Linked DNA regions of Homo sapiens. The protein of the gene in region 2 interacts with the protein of the main gene of each other region in a pairwise test. Each region holds a gene or a part of one and is shown on either strand. Other genes may lie near its edges.

Region 1 (7,922 bases), on a different chromosome or scaffold from region 2:
CGTAACAAAACCCTGTCTCTACGAAAAATAGAAAAATTAGCTGGGCGTGGGGTGCACGCCTTTAATCCCAGCTACTGGAGAGGCTGACGCACAAGAATCACTTGAACCCGGGAGGCAGAGGGTGCAGTGAGCCAAGATTACGCCACTACACTCCAGCCTGGGCGACAGAGCAAGACTGTCTCAAAAAAAGAAAAAGAAAAAAAAAGTATGGCATAGAGGGGTTAAATAACTTTCCCAAGGCACACAAATACGGGGAGCTGAGGTGCAAACCCAAGTAGTCTGATCTACAGCCTGTGTGCTTAACCACCACACCACACTGCTTCCTAGACAAGTAAAAATTGCCCCAGGAACATGAAGGCAGAGACCCTATTTGTATTCTAGATAGCACTGGCCTGGCACAAAGTAAACCCTCAATAAATGTTTGTTGAATGAATGAATGAATGATGTGGAAATACTTTTGTAAATTGAGAAATGCTCATGTAGACATTCTTATTGCTAAGTCCTTCAACTAATAGAAATTCCATTGATCTCACACTTTTGTCTAATGCTTAATACATTTTCCAGGGAAAAAGAAAAGAACTAAGGCAGGACACTTATTAGAGGCAAACAGTAGCTTGACAAACCTGGCCTGGGACAGATTCAAGAGGTCCGGCTAGGAAAACTCCCGAGGTTGGCATCTTGTCCATTAGAGCCTCCAGAACTTGGAGAAAGTTCCATTCTACCCAAGGAATCATCTGCCCACCCCCATCCTCTATCTTTCTATCTATTCTATTTAAATTGTCAGTTTACATGACACTTTCAAGCATTTTTCTCATGCAGATGGGAAAATATTTAAAATCTGGGTGGCCTCAAGAGAAAGGCCTGATACAAATAATATAATACTTCTTACTTCTGAACGATGGTTGGATACACATATTCATGGCAAGAGAACAGCCTTTTGTCTTCCTGGCCCACTTACTGTCTTTGGAGTCATTTCTTTGGGTATGGCCTGGGCGGTCCCAGCAGGAAGGCTGTGTGGGCTTCTCCCCAGTGAAATCCAGAACCATGAGCCATTCTTGCCCTGTTTCACACGGTCAGGAGGGAGAAAGGGCGCTGGCAGATGAAGGAAGCCCAGAGCTGGAAGGGACCCTAGCCAAACCCTAACATTTTACAGTCAGCTGGATTCTGGTGCCCTTTCCACTGTATCCTGGGGGCTTTCTCACACTTTTGCAATGGAGTGAATCCCTTTTTAATGATCTCCCACTCCTTCCAAAAAGAACACTTATTTACTTACTTTACCTACAGTTAAGATGGGCTTACAGGCATTAATATTATTGTTCAGTTGGCTCTTCTGGAGGTATTCTGATTAGCCCCATTTTACAGGTGGGAAAACCAAGGCTCTTTAAAAAATGAGACAAGCTCTAAATTCTGGGAAACCCCAGGTCTCTAACCCCAAATTTGTGGGGCTCTTGCTGTGTGTTAGGGACTATTCGGTGCGTTACCTATATGAACGCCTGGGTGCTGGCATTATTATACCTATTTTTTTGGATGTGGAAACTGAGCTCAGGGTGGGTATTTGAGCACAGTCACAGAGCCAGAACTCAAATCTGGCTGTCACACAAGGCCATCCCTCTTCTGGAGTGCCACTTGTGGAATGCCCAGGTGGATCCCTGCCCTCCTCAGGGGGTGCGTGTGGGCGGAGGGAATGCTTTATCGGCCAGGCATACATAAGCCTTCACCTCTCCAGGACCAAGAAAGGCGGTCTTGCAGTCTCCCTAACTCCTTCGCGAACTTCCCGTAGGTGGTCAGGGCGCTCGGCGGCAGGACCACGGCCCAGCTTTGTCTCCCCCACCTGAGGAGCGTGCACCAGGCCGCGCCCCGCACCACCCCACCTCCGCCCACAAGGCCCGCGACCACACGGTCACCCGCGCCCACGGCCGCCTCCATCTTACATTTGGGGATCATTATTTATTCCCCGACCTTGGAAACACTTCATGAGCACCGTGCTCGCCCTACTCCACCCCTCCCACCCCGACTCCCCTGCCCTCCGCATCCCCTTCCTCAACTGCCAGAGTCGGGATCCCAGGTGGGTGCAGGATTCAAAGTGGAAGGTTTGGACACCGCAGTCCCAGTTCCCGGTCCCTCTGAGCCGGGGCTGAGGGGATTCCCCGTCATCTGGAAAAGCCAACGGGCTTCAGCAGGGCCAGGGCACCGCCTCGGCTGGAGAGAACCCGCCCGGGCCACACACACCTCTCGGGCAGCTCAGAGAGGCAGCGAGGGCAGCGCGGGGGCAGGGGGAGAGGCGTGCCGCGTGTGCGCGTGAGTGTGCGCGTGTGAGGGTGAGGGTGTGAGCATGTGTGTGTGTGTGTTGGGGTGTATGCGCAGGCGCGCGTGCGTATTAAGATCCGGGGTGTAATTCCGCAAAGAAGGTCCAGGAGATCGGGCATCGCTAGTATGGACAGAGCTTTGTGTCCAAACAGGCAGTGCAAGGACTAACCCGCGAGGGCGGGGAGTGGGGTTCTCCCGGGAGGGGCAATGCGAGGAGCCGAGGCTGGGCACCGGAGGGGAGCGGGATTCCTATCCCGGACGGGACGCCTGGATGTGGGAAGCTCCGGACCTGGGCTCCTGCCGGAGGGTCCGTGCGCCCCAGACCCGGCTGGTCCGACGCGGGTGACACCCACACCCCAGGGATGCTCCATGCCAGGCACCGCGCACGGGCCGCGAGGTCGGGTTCCCGAAACGGCGCCCGCAGCAGCGGGGAGAGGAGTGGCCTTTAGGGGGACGCCACACCTCCCGCCCCGACCCGGCTCCCCGGATCCTCCGGGCGCCTTGCCCGCCGCCCACCGGGCCCCACCCGGGCAGCGGAGCCCGCACCGCCCGGCCCGGGGCTTCCCCGGCGGAGCACGCGGGGCGCGGGGCGCGGGTTACGGCCCCCCACTCTGCGCCCACCGCCGCCCACCGCGCGGGAGCTCGGGCGCAGGGACGCACCGCCGCGTCCACACTCCCGCCGGCTCCGGCGGTCCCTCCTCCAGGCACTCACAAAATTGTCGCCGCAGCCGTTGTCCGGACACAGCACATAGAAGGAGACGCCGGGGTCGGCGTAGAAATCCATCCTGCGTTCGGTCTCCTCGGTGGCGATGAGCTCGAAGGGCGTGTTGGAGCACCATTTCTCCGCAACGTCGGCCAGCTGCTGGAAATCCATCGCGGCCCCGCGCCCGCCTCCCGCCGCCGCCCGCCCTCCCGCTCCTAGGCGCCCTCCTCCCGGGCGGGCAGCGCGGCGCTCGGCTCGGCCTGCGCGGGCTCCTCCGGGGCCGGGCTGGGCCGGCTGGGACTGTTTACATGCGGTGCGGAGTGGGGCGGGCGGCGGCCGGGGACAGCGCGGCGCCGCGCCCGCGGCTCCTCCTCCGCCCCGCCTCCCCCCGCCCCCTTGCGGGCCGCCGTGGGGGTTGGCGCGGCCGGGCCGGGACGCGGGGCGGCGGGAGGAGCGGCCGGCACCCCCGCGGGCGCCCGGATTTTCCTGGGCGCTCCCGCCCCCCCTTTATTTTTAAACAAACCCGGAGCATCCCGGGGCCCTGGCCATCGCGGTGCCGCCCCGGGCCGTGACGTCATGGGCCCCAGCCAATCACCGGAGCCTGAGACCGCGCCGCGGCTTGCGAGCCCGGTGACGTCACAGCGCGAGCCTGGAATCCGCAGCTCCGCGGGTTACCTGGAAGCGGTGCGAGCGCCCAATACCTGGTTAGCGTTTCTGTGGAGTTAGAAAGCCCAGGAAGCGTTTGCCCAAATGCGATTTAAATGCAAGGGAGGCCATAGAACTGCAGATAACTTGGACCTTGTCTGGGGCTAGCAGTGGAGGAGCTGAGAAAATCTAAGGAAAAGGGAGCTTTTCTTTTTGCAGAAACCAAAGTTCTGTTCTCCGATTGATTTAAGGGAATGTGTCTTCTTAATGCATTTATCAGACACTAATATGAATGTTCACTTGCAAAGGGCGTGTGTGATTTTTTATTTGCGTTACGTAAAGCTGAATATTTCTTAGAAATGAGCCTCATAAGACTGGCTTCAGTATTATTCAGCTTGAATTCACATTGCATAACCTAAAAAGGTCAAGAGGATAAAGCACATTTTAAAACAAGAGTGTGTGGCCCAACGATTGCACCTGTTGAGTGCTCACTGGCTGCCATATACTGGACAGGCATTACTGGATTGCAGAAAATGCACTAGGGTCCTCGCCCTCAGGACTTGAACACTACAAACACAGACACGTTATAAACATTCAGCCAGCTTTTTTCTGTAAAGTGTGTCTTCTGAACCAGGCACTGTGCACGAATTTACATTCCCACCAACACGTATATATGTTTCCTTTTCTCTGCACCCTCACCAACATCTGCTGTTTTTTGACTTTTTAATCATAGCCATTTTGACTGGTGTGAGATTGTATCTCATTGTGGTTTTAATGTGCATTTCTCTGATAATTAGTGGATGTTGAGCATTTTTTCATATGTTCGTTGGCCACTTGTATGTCTTTTTTGAGAAATATCTGTTCATGTCCTTTGCCCACTTTTTAATGGGTTTTTTTTTTTTCTTGTTGAGTTGTTTGAGTTCCTTGTAGATTCTGGATATTAGTCCTTTGTCAGATGCGTAGTTTGCAAATATTTTCTCTCATTCTGTAGGTTGTCTATTTACTCTGTTGATTGTTTCTTTTACTGTGCAGAAGCTTTTTAGTTTAATTAAGGCCCATTTGTCTATTCTTGTTTTTGTTGCACTTCCTTTGGGGTTTTAGTCATAAATTATTTGCCTAGGCCAATGTTGCAAGGAACTGAATTCTGCCAACAACCCGAATGAGCTTGAAAAGCAGATTTTTTTCTCAAACTTGTTGTCTTTTCCAGACAAGAACTGAGCCTGACTATTACCATGATTGCAGCCTTCGCAGAACCTGAGCGAGAACCCAGTGATGCCATGGCTGTGCTGGGACTTCCGACTTTCAGAACTGTGGGCTATTAAATGGGTGTTGTTTTAAGCTGTTAGGTCTGTTTAAATTCTTCATGCAGCAGTAGAAAACTAATACACAGGACAATGAAGGAGACAGGCACATGAATATAAAAATGCAATATGCTGTTGTAAAGTTACAAAATGGTCCTTAAAAAAAAAAAGTATGGGTGTCTCCAGATAGCACAAGCTTCCTTGCAGTTTTACCTGGCACCACCATTTAAAGCATAATATGTGTTCCAAAAATGAATTCCTTAAATTGGAGATGAAAATATGAAAAATACATTCCTTTTTTCCTTTTTCGGGAAAGAAGGAGTTTTTTTTTTAATCCATGTGTTTTAAAATGTATCAGTCAAATTTGCTCCAAGTGATGTGATCAGAATTATGAAGTTATGTTTATTTAACAAATAGTTTTTGTCAGAAAATGAAAAACTCTTATGAAAAATAAAATTTTGGGTACAAAGCAATTGGTCAATGAAATGGATACCGTTGGGTTTCCTTAGAAATGCACTGAGAGCAACAGCAAAAGCTTCAGAACTCCATGTCTGCATTGATTCCTCCCTCTGCCATTTTAAGTTTTATGTGCATCTGCAACTTCCTTCATTGCTCGGAGCTCAGTTTTCTTTTCTGAAAACAGGGACAACAGTGAGATAAAGTATATAAAGTCCTTATCCCAGAACCTAGCACATAGTAAGAACTCAGTAAATGCCATTATTACTCTTAATCTACTTCTTAGGGATGATGTGTAAGAAGATCAGCTAATGAATTTTTAAAGTGAAATTCAGGAGTGATATGACTGGTAATATTGGTCACAGATGAACCTAAATCTCATTTTTTTTTCCAAGTCTTTAGAGCAGGGTTTCTCAGCAGCAGCACTATTGATATTTGAAGCCAAAAATTCTTTGTTGTTGGAGGCTGTCCTGCACATTGCAGGATTTTTAGCCACATTCCCTGGCCTCCACCCACTGGATGCCTGTAGCATCTCCCTCTACCCTCCCCTCTCTCCACTGTGACAAGCAAAAATTTCTCCAGACATTGCCAAATGTCCCCTGAGTGCAAAATTACCCCTACTTGAGAACCACAGATTTAGAGAGAAAAGTCTTGCAACAGTCGTGTTTTGGTCATTTTTACTAACTAGTGGAAAGGGTATGCACATAAAGCAGCTGAAATTCATCCTGGAAAGTTCATCTGCAGAAGTTGCTTGAAATTTTGTTTCCTTAGAACAACTGGTAAAGCCACCAGTTGCTTAGCTAAGAAGATCATAAACCTTTGCCCTGCCTCCCTCCTGTTTGGGGAGAGTCCTGTGAGGCATCCCAGGTTGTAGGGGTGTATTTAGGCCTCATGCACAGGGCAGTGGTCATTTCAGAACTCTAGCCAGGTGTTTTGTGCAGCCAGTAGGTGAGGAAACACCAGGGCTACCCATACCCCCTTTCTTGTGTTCCCATAGCCTTTGGCCATGGTTTGGAAGTAGAAGGAAAATTAAAACTTCTCCCCAGCCAGGCGTGGTGGCTCACACCTGTAATCCCACCACTTTGGGAGGCCAAGGTGGGTGGATCACCGAGCCCAGGAGTTTGAGACCAGCCTGGGCAACATGGTGAAAACCTGTCTCTACTAAAAATACAAAAATTAGCTGGGCATGGTGGCATGTGCCTGTAGTCCCAGCTACTTGGGAGGCTGAGGTGGGAGAATCCCTTGAGCCCTCGAAGTCGAGGCTGCAGTGAGCCATGATCACACCACTGCCCTCCAGCCTAGGTGACAGAGGGAAACCCTATCTCAAAAAACAAAACAAACAGACAAAAAAACTTATCCCCACCAGTAGGCAGAGTTGTACAGTCTTCATTGTATTTAAGGAACGTTTCTGTTCATTTATAGAAATCTGGACTTTGCTGTCTCTGAAAATCACCATTTGCCTTTGGGAGATGTGTGTTGGCAAGAAGAGGAGACATATTCAAACCCCACTGGCTAGGACATCAGGAGCTCAGTATGGAATGCAAAGGCCACCCTAGACTGTCCTGCTAATGCTGACTCTTCTGCCCATCTCTGTTTTGAAGTTCTCCATGGCTTTTATTCTAGTGTAAGTTTGATGTTAACATATAATTTGACCTTTGATTCACTCCTATATTGTAAGTCCGTTAAATTAGCCCTAGTTTTTGATAAATCTGCTCCATCCACATAGCCTTGTGGTTATGCAGTAGGAGGAGGTAGGCAGAGAGGGAAGCGTAGCTGGTTCCACATTCACCCTTCACCTGAACGCAAGGTCGTCTCATTGTATCAAGAGGGACTGTAGACCCCAGGTTCCAGGAGACGGTGGTCAGGAGAGAGGTGTTTGATTTGTCACAGTTGTGATGGGAGAGGTGAAAAGACCATAGGATCTGGAGAAGTAACTCCCAGGAGAGCAACACAGGAGGGATGAGAGCTGTCTTCTCCCTGCACTGTGCTCCAGAACAGTGAGCCCAGCAGTGGGGCGGGGAGGATAAGTAGAGGGCAGACATGAGTTAAGCCTGCGCCATAGTTTATGTGTCACTGCAACTAGAGTCTGAAAGAAAATCAAGTTGGAAGATCAGCGAAAAGTTGAAGATCTATATAAATGAGTCATTGTGATTTACCCCAACTGCCCAGTAAAGCTCTGGAAAAGGATTTCCTTCAGCCTTCCTACAAAATTCATTCTGAATTTTGTTTCTGAATCTTCCAAACTTAGTTTTTACAAAATTATTTCTTTTTTGGACATTCCTCTGAAAGGTTTGGATGTAGAATTTGAGCGAGTTGGGGTTACATTTTGGCTACAATTGCCTTCAAAACATGCCTAGCTGATCACATTCACCTGGTAAACATTTTCCTTTTATATATATCAAAGAAACAGAAATACTTATGATTTAGTTTTTAGCTTCTTTATTCATTTGAACACTTCAATATTCTGTCTTCTTCAATGATTCCCCCTTGCCCGTATTTTCAGCTGGAAC
Region 2 (7,623 bases):
CTAACACTGGGCTCAACCTAGTAAAACCCAGCCTGGCAGGTCTGAAGACACCAGACTCCAGACTGGTATCTATGGATAAGCCTCCAGGCCGTATCTCACAGCCTAGGCTCTAGATCTGTGCAGTGGACTCAGTCTACGAGCTATCTAAATGCGAGGTTGCCCTCAGTGGTAGGACCATTCTCAGTTGTGTTGGAACAACTGGATAGCCATATGCAGAAGACTATCTCACACCATGGAGGACTTTAAGTAAAGTAAGTCAGGAACAGAAAGACAAATACTGTATAACATCACTTAGTATGTAGATGTAAAAAATAGTTGAGCTCATAAAAGTAGAGAGTGGAAGAGGGGTTTCCAGGAGCTGGGGTGTAGGGAGAGTTGAGGCCGATATTGGTAAAAGGACACCAACTTCAGAATGAAAAGATGACTATCTTCAAGAGATCTATTGCAGAATGTGGCAATTATAGTTAACAATGTATTGTATTCTTGAAAATTGGGATAAGAGCAGTTTTCTTTTTTTTTTGAGATGGAGTCTCGCACTGTTGCCCAGGCTGGAGTGCAGTGGTGCAGTCTTGGCTCACTGCAAGCTCCGCCTCCCGGGTTCACACTATTCTCCTGCCTCAGCCTCCCAAGTAGCTGGGATTACAGGTGCCCGCCACCACGCCTGGCTAATTTTTTGTATTATTTTTTTTCATTTGTGGGGTACAATGCAAAATGAAAATATGCGGCCCCTTGTTCAAAATTTATTAAACATTTCAAGATGATGACAACAGAGCATTAAATCAAATGCAGGTGAGAGAGGGGTAGACACATCCTAAGGTGCCCTGGGGTTCCGAGGAATACAGCATGAGAAACACTGAACGTAGAGCCTGAGACAAGGACCTGGGTCCAGGTGATTTACCTGACCCCAGGAAGCAGGAATGAGGGAGCAGGGAGGTAAGACAGGGAGGAGGAGAAGCCAATGTATGAGTAAGCTGTTGGGGTTGTTTCTGGGCATTATGGGATCATGATCCCACCAAACCTCCTGGGAATGCCCCAGAATCTCTGCCCGAAACACTGAGAGCTGAGGCATTTCTCCATCAACTCCCAACCCCATTGGTTGAAGGATGCCCCTGGGGGTGCTAGCTTTCTTGCATTTCTTTTTTTTTTTTTTTCTTCTGTTGTGTTTTTTTTGTTTTTGTTTTTGTTTTATTATACTTTAAGTTTTAGAGTACATGTGCACATTGTGCAGGTTAGTTACATATGTATACATGTGCCATGCTGGTGCGCTGCACCCACTAACTCGTCATCTAGCATTAGGTATATCTCCCAGTGCTATCCCTCCCCCCTCCCCCCACCCCACCATAGTCCCCAGAGTGTGATATTCCCCTTCCTGTGTCCATGTGATCTCATTGTTCAATTCCCACCTATGAGTGAGAATATGCGGTGTTTGATTTTTTGTTCTTGCGATAGTTTACTGAGAATGATGATTTCCAATTTCATCCATGTCCCTACAAAGGACATGAACTCATCATTTTTTATGGCTGCATAGTATTCCATGGTGTATACGTGCCACATTTTCTTAATCCAGTCTATCATTGTTGGACATTTGGGTTGGTTCCAAGTCTTTGCTATTGTGAATAATGCCACAATAAACATACGTGTGCATGTGTCTTTATAGCAGCATGATTTATAGTCCTTTGGGTATATACCCAGTAATGGGATGGCTGGGTCAAATGGTATACTTCAGCAAAGTCTCAGGATACAAAATCAATGTACAAAAATCACAAGCATTCTTATACACCAACAACAGACAAACAGAGAGCCAAATCATGAGTGAACTCCCATTCACAATTGCTTCAAAGAGAATAAAATACCTAGGAATCCAACTTACAAGGGACGTGAAGGACTTCTTCAAGGAGAACTACAAACCACTACTCAAGGAAATAAAAGAGGATACAAACAAATGGAAGAACATTCCATGCTCATGGGTAGGAAGAATCAATATCGTGAAAATGGCCATACTGCCCAAGGTAATTTACAGATTCAATGCCATCCCCATCAAGCTAACAATGACTTCACAGAATTGGAAAAAACTACTTTAAAGTTCATATGGAACCAAAAAAGAGCCCGCATCACCAAGGCAATCCTAAGCCAAAAGAACAAAGCTGGAGGCATCACACTACCTGACTTCAAACTATACTACAAGGCTACAGTAACCAAAACAGCATGGTACTGGTACCAAAACAGAGATATAGATCAATGGAACAGAACAGAGCCCTCAGAAATAACGACGCATATCTACAACTATCTGATCTTTGACAAACCTGAGAAAAACAAGCAATGGGGAAAGGATTCCCTATTTAATAAATGGTGCTGGGAAAACTGGCTAGCCATATGTAGAAAGCTGAAACTGGATCCCTTCCTTACACCTTATACAAAAATCAATTCAAGATGGATTAAAGACTTAAACGTTAGACCTAAAACCACAAAAACCCTAGAAGAAAACCTAGGCAGTACCATTCAGGACATAGGCATGGACAAGGACTTCATGTCTAAAACACCAAAAGCAATGGCAACAAAAGACAAAATTGACAAATGGGATCTAATTAAACTAAAGAGCTTCTGCACAGCAAAAGAAACTACCATCAAAGTGAACAGGCAACCTACAAAATGGGAGAAAATTTTCACAACCCACTCATCTGACAAAGGGCTAATATCCGGAATCTACAATGAACTCAAACAAATTTACAAGAAAAAAACAAACAACCCCATCAAAAAGTGGGCGAAGGACATGAACAGACACTTCTCAAAAGAAGACATTTATGCAGCCAAAAAGCACATGAAAAAATGCTCATCATCACTGGCCATCAGAGAAATGCAAATCAAAACCACAATGAGATACCATCTCACACCAGTTAGAATGGCAATCATTAAAAAGTCTGGAAACAACAGGTGCTGGAGAGGATGTGGAGAAATAGGAACACTTTTACACTGTTGGTGGGACTGTAAACTAGTTCAACCATTGTGGAAGTCAGTGTGGCGATTCCTCAGGGATCTAGAATTTTTTGTATTTTTAGTAGAGACGGGGTTTCACCGTGTTAGCCAGGATGGTCTCAATCGCCTGACCTCATGACTGGCCCGCCTGGGCCTCCTGACCTCATGACTGGCCCTCCTGGGCCTCCCAAAGTGCTGGGATTACAGGCGTGAGCCACCGCGCCCAGCCTTTACTAGTGAATTCTATTGAGCATATAAAGAAGAAATGATAGCAGTTATTTAATTCTTTTCAGAAAATTAAAAAAAAAGGAAAAAGTCTCAATTAATTCCATGAAGGAAAAAAATAAAAAGCATCTTGTATTTTGACGTGTATTTGTTTGCCAGTGGCTAAGCTGAGCAATGAAAAGCTGCACTGGTAAGTCTCAACACTAGAATACAGAGAATAGGAACCTATCAAACATGACTAGAGCTAATTGATCATCTCCACTACGTCAAATTTTTCTACTGCTCTGGATAAATTAATAAAAATGGGATTATCTCTTGCTACTTCTACATTCAATTATTCTTATAACTTCAGCAATTGATTCAGAAAAGCGGTCCTGCAGAGAACATTGTTAATATTAGAAAAAGCACAGCAACGCAGAGAAGGAAATAGCCTTCACTTTTCTTTAATCTCAGTGCTCAGGCTTCTTTCCACTTTTTACCTGAAGCAGCTCCATCACTGACCCCTGCAGCCGATGCTCCAGATCTGAGATGAGCTCTCTCAGGGACTGGGTCTGCTGCACCATCTCAGTTTCAGAGTTCGTAAGGCTTTTCAGAATGTCTTCCTCCTCCTTCTCCAGGTTTTGCAGCTCATTGCTCTCCTCCCAGTCCAGGATGTCTCTCAGTTGCTCAAAATCTGCCAAGACGTTGGTTTTGTCATACTGTATTTGAGTCTTCAGAGATAAGAGAAGAGAAAGGGGCACTCAGTCTACCAGGCAGAGGCTGTTAGCCAGAAAAGGAGCTGTTTCTTTTGGGGAGTTCTCACAAGGAGGGGACATAGTAGCAGGAGAGTAGGTCTTAGGAAAGCTGCCTTTTCCTATTTCTTTTCCTTCATGACATTTTAAAACAATGACCTTGAATGGGTATATTGAGGTTCATCCTGCATCAAAATGGGTTACCTGGATGTAGCTTACCTTTCACACAGCTATGCAGGACACTCATGCCTGCCTGTATTACTTCTCAGCCCAAGCTCAAACTCCCTGCCAAAAGTTGAACACTGAGGACAGAATCATGAGCCATTGCCAAATGTCTTCCCCAAGTAGAGTCACGGACTCAAAAAGTAGCACAAAAATAGAATGCAGGATTCACTAGCCATCCTCACCAGAGAGATCCTTCATGTAAAGAGCTCCCTACTGTGTTCACTGTGACATATTCACTCCTCAGCCACCACACCCCATCAGGGAAAGGATGAAGAGGACTAATCAAATGACTTCTGGACTTATCAAATGTCAGGGAATAAAGAGGAAGAAAGCTCCTTCCCCTGGTCCTGCCCAGATTTCTAGCTAACTCCTTCGGGAACCACATCCTCTTGCCTTCCAGGAAGCTTTCTCTTCTCTGATGTCAGCTTCTAACTCTTCAGCTTCCTGCTGCTTCTGCCTCAGCATCTCCAGAGCTGCCTGGAGCTTCACCTGTGAGAAAGGAATCACACCATAGTCAAGCTATGAGGTTTTCCAGCACCTAGATAGAGTATAAACATGAAATAAATCAGGTTGATCTCAGAAGAAACAAATTTGCAGAAACTGTGAGAATGGCAATGAGAATCCATGACTTGGAAGAAAACTTACATTGGTGAATGTGCTCCCTACATCTCAGGTAATAGACCTCCCCATCTCCTCACCATGAGTAGACTGATTCTTTTTGTCCTAGAAGAAAAAACTAATCCTGCAGCAAGGAAAAAACTTACATCTCAACCCACTCCTGTTACTCTCCTGCTGAAAGGGGTAATCAGAGCTTTTCTTGGACACCAAATCTCTACCCATCTAACCCAAGGTACAAAATATTTACTCCCGGCCAGGAATATATACTCTAGGATTATTCTCCTGTAATTGGGTGAAATGCAAAAAACCATCCTTAAAGCCTCAGAAGTTAAGCATAGCATGAAAAAAATAATCCCGGGTCTCAGGTCTATCATGACAAGGCAGTTAATGTCAAAGGCAAAGTGAAAATTTTCCATCTGGTCCCATTTTCTGCCCTCTCTTCCTTCCATCCCAGTCTCTTACTTGGTACTCCCGGGCAACCTCCTCTGTGAGGAACGTGTGGTGACCACGGTGCTCCTGAGACCGCTCACAAAGCCAGCAAATGACCTTCCCGTCCTCCTGACAGAAGAGTAGAAGTTTCTCTCCATGGCGTGCACAATGATCAACTTTCTGCCCCTCTGGGCTCAACTTGACCTCCCTGAGCTTCTCCACTATGTTGGCTACATGCCGATTAGGCCGTATGTTCTCAGGCTGGTAACTGATCCGGCACACAGGGCAGCTACTCTCTCCTTTGTCTAGCATGGACTTCTTGTGGTTTGCAGTGAGGCATGCTTGGCAGAAGCTGTGGCCGCAGTCCAGGCTCAGGGGTTGTGTCAGGAGTTCCAGGCAGATGGGGCAGGTCACCTCCTCCTTTACATTAACCAGGATTCCAGAAGCCATAGTAGCTATTCCACTGCTCCTGCCTGTCCTGGCTGCTGAGGTTCCTCTTGTTCACAGATCCCTGCATGATTGGGAAGGTTAAAATGGGACCAAGTAAGAAAGGTAGAAATAGAAAGGATATTGATTGTGCACAATTAGAAAATGGGCAAGATGAAAATAATTAAGGACAAAAAAAGGGGAGAAATAAGAAAAGGTGTTTGGTTACCTGGTAATAAGGGCTTTTCATAATCACCTTAAATACTTTACTGCCAGTTCATGTCATATGACAAATTCTGTTCTTATCTGTGCATTGGTTATCATTTTTCTTTACTTTCAATGAATAGAAAACAGACTGAGGTCTTTTCTACCAAGATCTTTGTGTGACCCATCATCTCTCCTGGCTTTTCTTTCCCACGCCAAAACACATCCTCAGTATTAAAATCACCAAACAGCTTATGCCTCAGGGCTTTCACATTTGCTCTTCTCTCAGCATGAAATGTTTCTCTGATGTTAGTACGATTTTATTAAATTCTCTCCTTACATGTTATATTATCAAAAATACCTGCTCTGACTACCTTATGTGCAGTGTAACAAATCTCACCATGCACTGTACGTTTGCAATGATTGCTCTTATTATCAGCAGAGTGAATGACTGTTTCATCAAATGTATAAATAGACATAATAAGTGATTTACAAAAATTATTTATCTTCAGTATGGTGACCTGAGATGACCTCGTATTCAGGGTCCTCTTTCACTGGCCTCTTTGCTACTCTTTTGGTTAATCAATGACAAATGGAGATAACAGCATATATCCAATTAATACCCAGAGCAATTGGGGTGTGGAAGTAGAGGAATCCACAACAGCTGGGAGGTTCTGAGGAGTCTCATCCTGAAAGTTTGCCAAGGACATTTATTGGAGCCTAAAGGTGTAGACATGGTGTAGAGGGTGATGATAGAGAAATACTCAGTGGACCACACATGTTGGATACTTGAAAACTAGAAGCACAGAGGCAGTGGATATCAGTCTTGAGAGAGAAGTCTCAAAATATTAGATGAGATGATTCTGTTCCCGGAACAAACGGAGGGTCGGCTGCTGCTTCTTGCGGCCCAATAACGAGATGCAGATTTACTGGGAAAGAAGCGAATTTTTATTTCTGCGTACAGGGAGAAGGCCTAGAAAATATCTCCAGACCAACTCAAAATTACAAAGTTTTCCAGAGCTTATATACCTTCTAAGCTATACGTCTACGTATAGGTGTGCATTATTCATCTAAAAACATAAGTGATTAACTTCTTCAAATCTATAACTAAGGTCTGAGTTTTAAGACCTTCCTCTGGTGCCTCAGTAAATTTACCTAATCTAGATGGGTCCGGGTGCTGGGGTGATTACCCTTATCTTGTCTCTCCTGCTAAATCATTAAGGTTTGCGGAGTTCCTTCAGACCCTCAATAAACTTGTTTGTGGAGGCCTGGGAGTTCCTTCAGACCCCCATAAAACTTGTTTAATCCTAAACAGGTCCTAATCGATTCCTTCGTTATCTTGTCATGCTTCAAGGCCCAGGAAAGGCCTGGGCAAAACTCTCAGTGGGCTTCTGTTACATTCCAGCCTTTGTATAAGGGCACTGGCTCTATCAGCTTTTAATATTTTTTTTTCTTTTTTGAGACGGAGTCTTGCTCTGTCGCCCAGGCTGGAGTGCAATGGCACAATCTCGGCTCACCACAACCTCTGCCTCCCAGGTTCCAGTGACTCCTCTGCCCCAGCCTCCCGAGCAGCTGGGACCACAGGCACGCACCACCACACCCGGCTAATTTTTGTATTTTTGGTACAGATGGGGTTTCACCATATTGGCCAGTCTGGTCTCCAACTCCTGACCTTGTGATCCACCTGCCTCGGCCTCCTAAAGTGCTGGGATTACAGGCGTGAGCCACCGTGCCCGGCTTCAGCTTTTAATATTTAACTTAACCAGACGGGTGTGGTGGCTCACGCTTGTAA
Region 3 (7,597 bases), on a different chromosome or scaffold from region 2:
ACCACCACGCCCGGCTAATTTTTTCTATTTTTTAGTAGAGACAGGGTTTCACCGTGTTAGCCAGGATGGTCTCAATCTCCTGACCTTGTGATCCGCCCGCCTCGGCCTCCCAAAGTGCTGGGATTACAGGCGTGAGCCACCATGCCTGGCCAAAACTCAAGACTTAAGTCATTCATTACAATTTTGTCTGAATTGCAATTAGGAGAGAAACAGCTGCAGTACCTTTGTATCTTTGTCAGTGAAATGTTTATAACAAGGAAAAACAAAAATCTGTTTGAAATCTCCAGTAAGCGCCCCCCAGTGCACCATCTAGTGGAAGTCAGGTAGTGTCATAATTAATTTAAAGAAAAAAGTCACAGAAACTCTGAAAACCATTGGGGGAGGGGGAGAAGTCAAAGCTTCAGGTAAGAATACAAGCAAATACTTTACAAACAGCCAAAATATCTTTCCAGTGTCCCACAATGCAAGAGGGCTGGGCTTATGAGAATAAATGATTCATTTTCTGTATAATCAACAGATGATAAAAGTTCCTTTATGGAAATTTTTGCTTGGGTGCTAGAAATTTTGACAGGAGAGTAAAAGTTAAATAAAGCCACTAAAACATAAATAAGTAAATAAATGCTGGGCTAGAGTGACAGCCTTGTGTAAGAAGAGTTGCCTTATATGTTACATGAATATGTTAAAATGTACATGTGAAACAGAGGTATTAGCCACAAAACAAGAGATAACTTCATGATTAGAACAGTTACATTCAGGCTGGGTGCAATGGCTCACGCCTGTAATCCCAGCACTTTGGGAGGCCAAGGCAGGCAGATCACTTGAGGTCAGGAGTTCGAGACCAGCCTGGCCAACATAGTGAAACCCCATCTCTACAAAAATATTAAAAAAAAAAAAATAGCTGGGCGTGGTGGCATGCGCCTGTAGTCCCAGCTACTCAAGAGGCTGAGGCAGGAGAATCACTTGAACCAGGGAGGCAGAGATCACAGTGAGCCACAGCACTCCAGCCTGGACAACAGAGTGAGACTCCACCTCAGAAAAAAAAAAAAAAAGAGTTCCATTCAGTAATCCATAAGACATTTTCATGTTCCTGATAACTAGTAAATTTAACAAAACCTAACGATTCTCTAGAATTCCCTAAGCCTTAACATCATACAAGCGGCTACTCCCAACTACCCATTTCAGCCTGTCCCACACTAATGCCCAAACTCCTTTGGTCAAGTTATTCTAATTAAGAAATTATTCTTCAATCCGTCTATAAATTTACAGTAAACACTTCCCGAAACAAAGTCATAAGTCATGATCAAAATGCATTACACTTCATTAGTATTTTCCTTCTGCATATCAATTATTTCTATTCAATTCAAAAAAAGGTACCGAAATTCAATGCTGAGCTAGAGATGCAAACACAAATAAGGTTCTCTAATTTGGAAAGCTTCCCAAAATTTAAAATAGAGATTTTCACACAGCATTCCTAACTTTTGTTTGTTTTGCCTGTGTGGAAAATTACCTTTCACCTGAAATTCAAACTAGCTAAGCAACCTGAATGGAAAGAAAAACCTCGCAGATAATATTTCTTTACTTGAAAATAACCATCTCCACCTCTGACCTGTGTATACGGGATCAAATTGGTATGCAGAAGTTGGCTTGATGGCGGGAATCTTACCCAGATTTTGGATTAAATCCATTATAGGTATAAAATAAAGTAGGAGTAAAGTGGGGCAGGATTCCTTTCATTTCTAGGGCTTTCAGTTGACATACCTGTAAAATGGACATGCTATGCACAGCCTGCCTCAGAAGAGTAGGAGGATGGCATACTATATAATTGATAGAGTGCTATGAGCTTCACGATTAAATGGAAATACTGTTTTTATAGAACCAGAGTGAACCTGAGCATAGAAAACTCTCCAAGGGCCATCGCTGTGACATTACCGCTAAAACTCAGTGACCTTCATCAATTCACTTGTAAACAAGCAATATATTGAGCAAGTCAAAGGAAAGGCAGCAACAATTCAAGATACTTCTTTATAAGTAAATCAAATTACGTAATTAATAGCCCAGGATTTACCTGCAAACTATTACTGCCTGACTAGCAGGTGCATCCCCAAAGCCTCGAGTACAGAGACTGTTTTTAGAGAGCCCCCCCTTTTTTAAATGTGAATATTGCTTTTAAAAATTAGAAAAAGAAAAAAATCACAATTCTACTCCCACCCATGGCACAGTGACAGAAACAAGGTCCCACCCCCACAATCCTTTCAAACCTGCACAGGCATTCCTCACGAACACTCCTCCCCCTCATTCCTACCTCACCGCTCCCCACTTCAGCCCAGACAAAGCTGAGTTACTCGGCTGGGTCTACCTGTCACTTAAGAAAAAGCCCCCAAATAGATTCACGCTAAATGCTGCTTTTAATTTTTTAAATAGCAAATAAGTAAATAAATAATGCTATCGTGTAGATTACACGGCCAAACGCCTGTTCTCAGAAAACATGTAATTAACACGACCCAAGTGAAGACGCCTTTCTGGCTTAGGGAAAGAAAAAAAAGAAGCCAGCCAGCTTATCGCTCCCTTTCAGTCGGTTCTTTTCCCCGGGGAGCCGGACTCTGACTCAACTCCGCAGTTTTTCCTCCACCTGTCGGTTCTCCCCGCTCTGGGTCTGCCCCGCCGCCGCCCCCGCCCGGAGTCCCGCGCGTCAACAGGGGTCTCCAGGGGTCCTCAGGGTCCCGCCCGAGGCGGCCCCGCCCCTGCCCCGGCCCCGCCCCCACCTCCTCACAAGGTGCCCGCCGCGGGCTCCCAGGCTGAGGCGCCTAGAGGCCGGCAGGAGGCTCCGGAGGACCGCGGCACCGCTCGGCCCGGTCGCCGGCGCAGGGAGCAGCTTCGGGGGCCGACCCCACCGCCCGAGCCTAGCCCTGGGCTCCGACAGGCGCTCCCCAGAGGCGCCCCATTACCTGCTCTGGGCTGCCGCGGTCCGCGGGCAGGAGGCGCACTCGCTCTGGCCCCTGCAGCCCCGGGCCCGGAGGCAAGGAGGCAGCGACCGCCACCGCCGCAGAGGACAATCGGGAGCCAGCGGGCTCGGCACCGCCGCGGCGGGCGCAGAACGCACGAGCCCAGTGGGAGCCCGGCCCCCGCCTCCAGCCCGGCTAGTAACCAACACGGCCCCCACCCTCGGAGGGGCGGGACCGCGGTTGGAGGGGCGGGGCGGGGCTGCACCGCCCGCGGGTAAGAGGGGCCTGCTGATAGGCTGCGAAGGCGATAGGCGTCTCAGACTTGAAGACGCCTCTCCAGCAGAACTCCCTCATTGGTCGGCAAGAGAAAACAAAGCTGGGCTCTGATTGGTGACAGCTCTGTAGCTCCTCCTCATACCCGCAGTCCCCGCAAGTTCCACCCCTGCCCGCCCGGTTCGCTCGCCCTTGGTTCCCACTCCCAGGTGGCTGCAGACTGGAGTGTGTTTCATGGACGAGCAACCTCCCTGAGGAGAACCCCGGATACGCAGGTTCATTCGCCAGATGCGAGTTTTCTTAAGCCGCTGCGATTCTCTGATTTCAGTATGAACTTGGTGAATAACGTAATCTTTAACTTCCTTTGGATTCAGACAAGTCTCCTAGGTTTAAAAATGCTGCATAAGATTGAGAGGGATATTGTTATGCACGAAAAAAGACATAAGGTGTTTTCACCTTTGGCGACACTGTAGGTGACTTTTTCTTATTACCTTTTTGTGTTCCATATTGAACATGTACTACATGATTAGAAAAAAAAATTCTTAAATAGAAAAATGAGTAGGGTGCGGAGAATGGTAAAGACAAACTTTAAGGAAATCCAGAGAACTGATTCTTTCACAATAGAAGAAAATACAGTAAACATGCTTAATATCTGAGGGCTACCCCGAAAAAACATGAACTGGTATCAGCGCCCTTCAGCTCTCTTAAAGAACTTTACATATGTGACCGAGGTGCCCCCATACTCCTTCCTATCATGTAACCAACACATAATGTGGACAGCACTACACTGCAAACAGAATTACAGGAAGACTCTTATAGGAAGAATTAGAATCCAAAGTACACAATCAATAAAGCTTTAGAAAAAGGGGTAGTAAAAAGCAGAAGACAAAAAAAAATCAGGTAATATAAATTGGAAAGCTCAGCTGATGGAGGGAATCATCAGAAAAAAAATAATGTGACAACACTTCAAGATGTGATAGAGACTTTGAATGGAAAGCTGAAGGGAGAGGAAGGGGATTGAGATAAGGATCAATGACCTGCAGTTAATATGAGCTCTCAGAACACATCCCCCAGAACTGGTGTCAGCCTAGAAGGCAAGAAGCATTTCTCACCTAGGGACCACTCTCACTTAACTCTCTCTAGCTGCCTTAACATTCTGTTTGTTCTTGTCATTCTCGCAAAGTTCTAAAACAGGCTATTTGAAATTAAGCACTTCCCCCCAGCAACTCCGTGAATTACGTAATAGTGAAAAATGGAGATAGACAAAAAGCAAACCTGAGGAAGGAAAGGAATGTTAAGGTAAACATAAACTTAAAGAGAAGTAAGGGCAAAACACCTGATAGAAAGAAGACAAGAAATTCTTTTTTCTCTCTTACTTCCTGAGAATAAAGTAAAGGTCTTTGGAGGACAGAATAACCTTATTGCCTAACAAAAAGAGTTTTTACCAAACCTTTCTAATAATAACTGTAATTCTAAACTGTAGTCTAAAAATACGTGTCCTAAAGTAAGTACTTTGAGCAAATAGTTTTGAGATCTAATATTTTTACATTGTGTAAGGAAAAGAAGAGGAACTTAGCCTAGTATGAACAAACTGTAGGGAATACCCTTCAAAAGTTTCTTCTACAATAACACCTGAAATTCCATCACTAACATTCTTTCACTGGGATTAAATAATGTATGTCTAAGATTATTCTTTTATTCATTTACTCATCAAACGTAATCAATATTAATCATCAAATACTAGATACTGCAATGAACGAGGCTTTCTACTAAGCACTCAGAGTATAGCCTTGAACAAGACAGACTTGCAGCTGTTTTTATCAGAAGATGGACAATGATCCAATAAAAAGATAAACTTCCAGACCGGGATCAGGGCAAAGAAGAAAACAGTGACCAGAGGGATGGGAGACACACTTAATTTTGGGAAAGGAGAAAAATGCTTTAAGGAGAAATGATCTAAGAGAAATGCTCTAAGATTTGAGGCACCACCTAAATAAGAAAACACCAACTTAGCAAAACTCCAGGGCAGATAAAATAGCAAGAACAAAGGACTTGAAGTAGGAAGAAAAGTGATGTATAGCAGGAACAGAGAGAAAGCCAGCATGGGTATCATGGTGCATAAGGAGAGTGCTACTAGACAGGTTGGAGAAGGAGGTGAGGACCTCGTAGGCAATGGTAACTTTGTATTTTGTTACAAGGATTCCTGACGGGCAACATCGAGTTGCTGATAGTGGAGTAAAATCATTATTTTTTTTTTTCCTTTTTCAGAGTCACCAGTAAAATGAGCATTCATTCATTAAGCCAATCATCAGGAATGGATCTAGGAAGAACCTACTGTTTACTAGAAATAGGTTAGATCTGTGGATATAACAATGAATAAGACAAGACTGGTGGATCTATAGAGAAACTATTACTGCACAGGTGATGGGGAAATCAAGAGTACTATGGGGCCAAGGAGACTGTCCTGCAGCAAATGAGGAATAAGCTGAAACATCAGTAGGAGCCATCCCAGAGAAAAGGGACAGGGTTCTAGATCCAGAGAACAACAGAAGAGCATTCAGCGCCTGCAAGGGAGCAGGGGATCTAATGCAAAGCCATTGCATAACCAGTCAACTTTCCCCACATCACAAGATTGCCTAGCCTGGATGGCCCCAGAATGTTGAAACAAATGTCTAATTAGTAACGACATTCTGAATGCTTGGGAGCTGAGCAAAATATGAGGAGAAGCAACCTGATTTTTGTTTCATATTATCATCTCCTTTATTCCAGCAACAAAAGACACTGAAAATAGTAAATGCCCACTTTCAACCATGACAGCCCTTTTAGGATAGTAACGGTGAGCAGTATTAATCCTATTTGACCAGAACTAGGGCAGAATTGAAGCCCCTGGAGTAGAGATCTGTTCTATTAGCCCCAGCCTTTCCGCCTGCTTCTTGGGATGGCTATCTTTACTTTATCAGTTGAGCCTCCAGCATTAGCAGATACCTATAAGGGAAGAGATCCAGCCCTCACTATGGAGGGCCAGAAAGAGAAAGCACCAGACATTAGGAAATGTCAAAGTATCTCAGTACATCCAGCTGATTAGTGACAGATAAGTCAAAATTTGCAGCAACTAAATAAATCAAAAAGTAGATTTTAAAATGTGATCTTTGAAATATTTGGCACAATGCTTCAAAGCCACTGAAAAGCTATCTCTTCACCCTAATAGAGGACAGAAATTCATTAGATAGACAGAAGAGGCTGCATACAGTAGCCCATGCCCATAATCTCAACAACTTTGGAGGCCAAGGTGGAAAGATTACTTGAGGCCAGGAAATCAACACCAGCCTGAGCAACATAGCAAGACATCTTTACAAAAAATTTAAAAATTAGCCAGGTTTGGTGGTGTGCAGCTGTAGTCCTAGCTACTCGGGAGGCTGAGGTGGGAGGATTGCTTGAGGCCAGGAGTTCTAGGCTGCAGTGAACAGAGATTTTGCCACTGCGTTCCAGCCTGGGCAACAGAGTAAGACCCTGTCTCTAAAATAGATGATAGATAGATAGAGAGAGAGAGAGAGATGATAGATAATAGATAGTTGATAGATAGATGATAGATAATAGATAGTTGATAGATAGATAATAGATCGTTGATTGATAGATTAGATAGATGTATAATAGAACCCAAAGGCAAAAATAAGTTAGTCCTCAGGAAGACCCAGATCGCAGACCTGAAAAGCCAGGAGGAACTCAATGGAATTTTTTTCCATAGCAGGTGCTCTCTCTACACCTGTGCTCTATTCTCCTATTCTGATAACCAGCCCCTGGCTCCTATGTCCCAGTGTCAGAGAAATGATGTTCCAGAGCTGCACCCACAAGGACTAAATCACCTGCCTAACCCTAACCCTAATCATAGATGATGGGGGCTGCAGGGGACCAGTATGGCTGCCAGGGCCCATCCCTGTTTATGAGCAGAGGTTTCCCAGAGAAGACACACTGGGCAGATTACCAGACACGCATTCATTGCACCCCTGACATTTTCAATCGCCAGTCAATGAGGCTTCCTTTCTAGTTACTGAAAGTCTTCACCTGCTGTTTATAGTAAACTGGAGACCTAGAGGCCAAGGCCGAAGGCTTGGATGGTAATTTCCCACATTCTCTGGAAATCTTTCTACTTCAGTTGGCTTCCAGACACCCAGTACCCTTGTGTGTTCCAGTTTCAAGTTGCCATTCTTGTTCAGGTCTTCTAGTAATTTCCTGTTTCCCTATCTGAAGTGTACCTCCTGACATCAATGTATTCAAAGAGCAAATGCTCCTGCCAAATCTATGAGTGTCAGTGAACTAGCCTGCTGCTCTGGGCTCAGATGAGACCAGCTTGCAGAACAAGCAGGACAGAGGCGTGAAGGGAA

The links.
Region 1: the proteins of TRIM5 (region 2) and MTURN interact in binary tests that used the Homo sapiens proteins (3 or more experiments, as listed by UniProt).
Region 3: the proteins of TRIM5 (region 2) and MPP7 interact in binary tests that used the Homo sapiens proteins (3 or more experiments, as listed by UniProt).

The regions. Positions count from the first base shown.
Region 1 is NC_000007.14:30,130,396-30,138,317, reverse strand, and holds the start of MTURN (maturin), read right to left. Parts: upstream 3,333-7,922; 5' UTR 3,182-3,332; coding exon 3,020-3,181; intron 1-3,019. UniProt on the Homo sapiens protein: Promotes megakaryocyte differentiation by enhancing ERK and JNK signaling as well as up-regulating RUNX1 and FLI1 expression. Represses NF-kappa-B transcriptional activity by inhibiting phosphorylation of RELA at 'Ser-536'.
Region 2 is NC_000011.10:5,674,527-5,682,149, forward strand, and holds part of TRIM5 (tripartite motif-containing protein 5), read right to left. Parts: intron 5,713-7,623; 5' UTR 5,652-5,712; coding exon 5,235-5,651; intron 4,644-5,234; coding exon 4,548-4,643; intron 3,909-4,547; coding exon 3,678-3,908; intron 1-3,677.
Region 3 is NC_000010.11:28,299,916-28,307,512, forward strand, and holds the start of MPP7 (MAGUK p55 subfamily member 7), read right to left. Parts: upstream 3,150-7,597; 5' UTR 2,946-3,149; intron 1-2,945. UniProt on the Homo sapiens protein: Acts as an important adapter that promotes epithelial cell polarity and tight junction formation via its interaction with DLG1. Involved in the assembly of protein complexes at sites of cell-cell contact.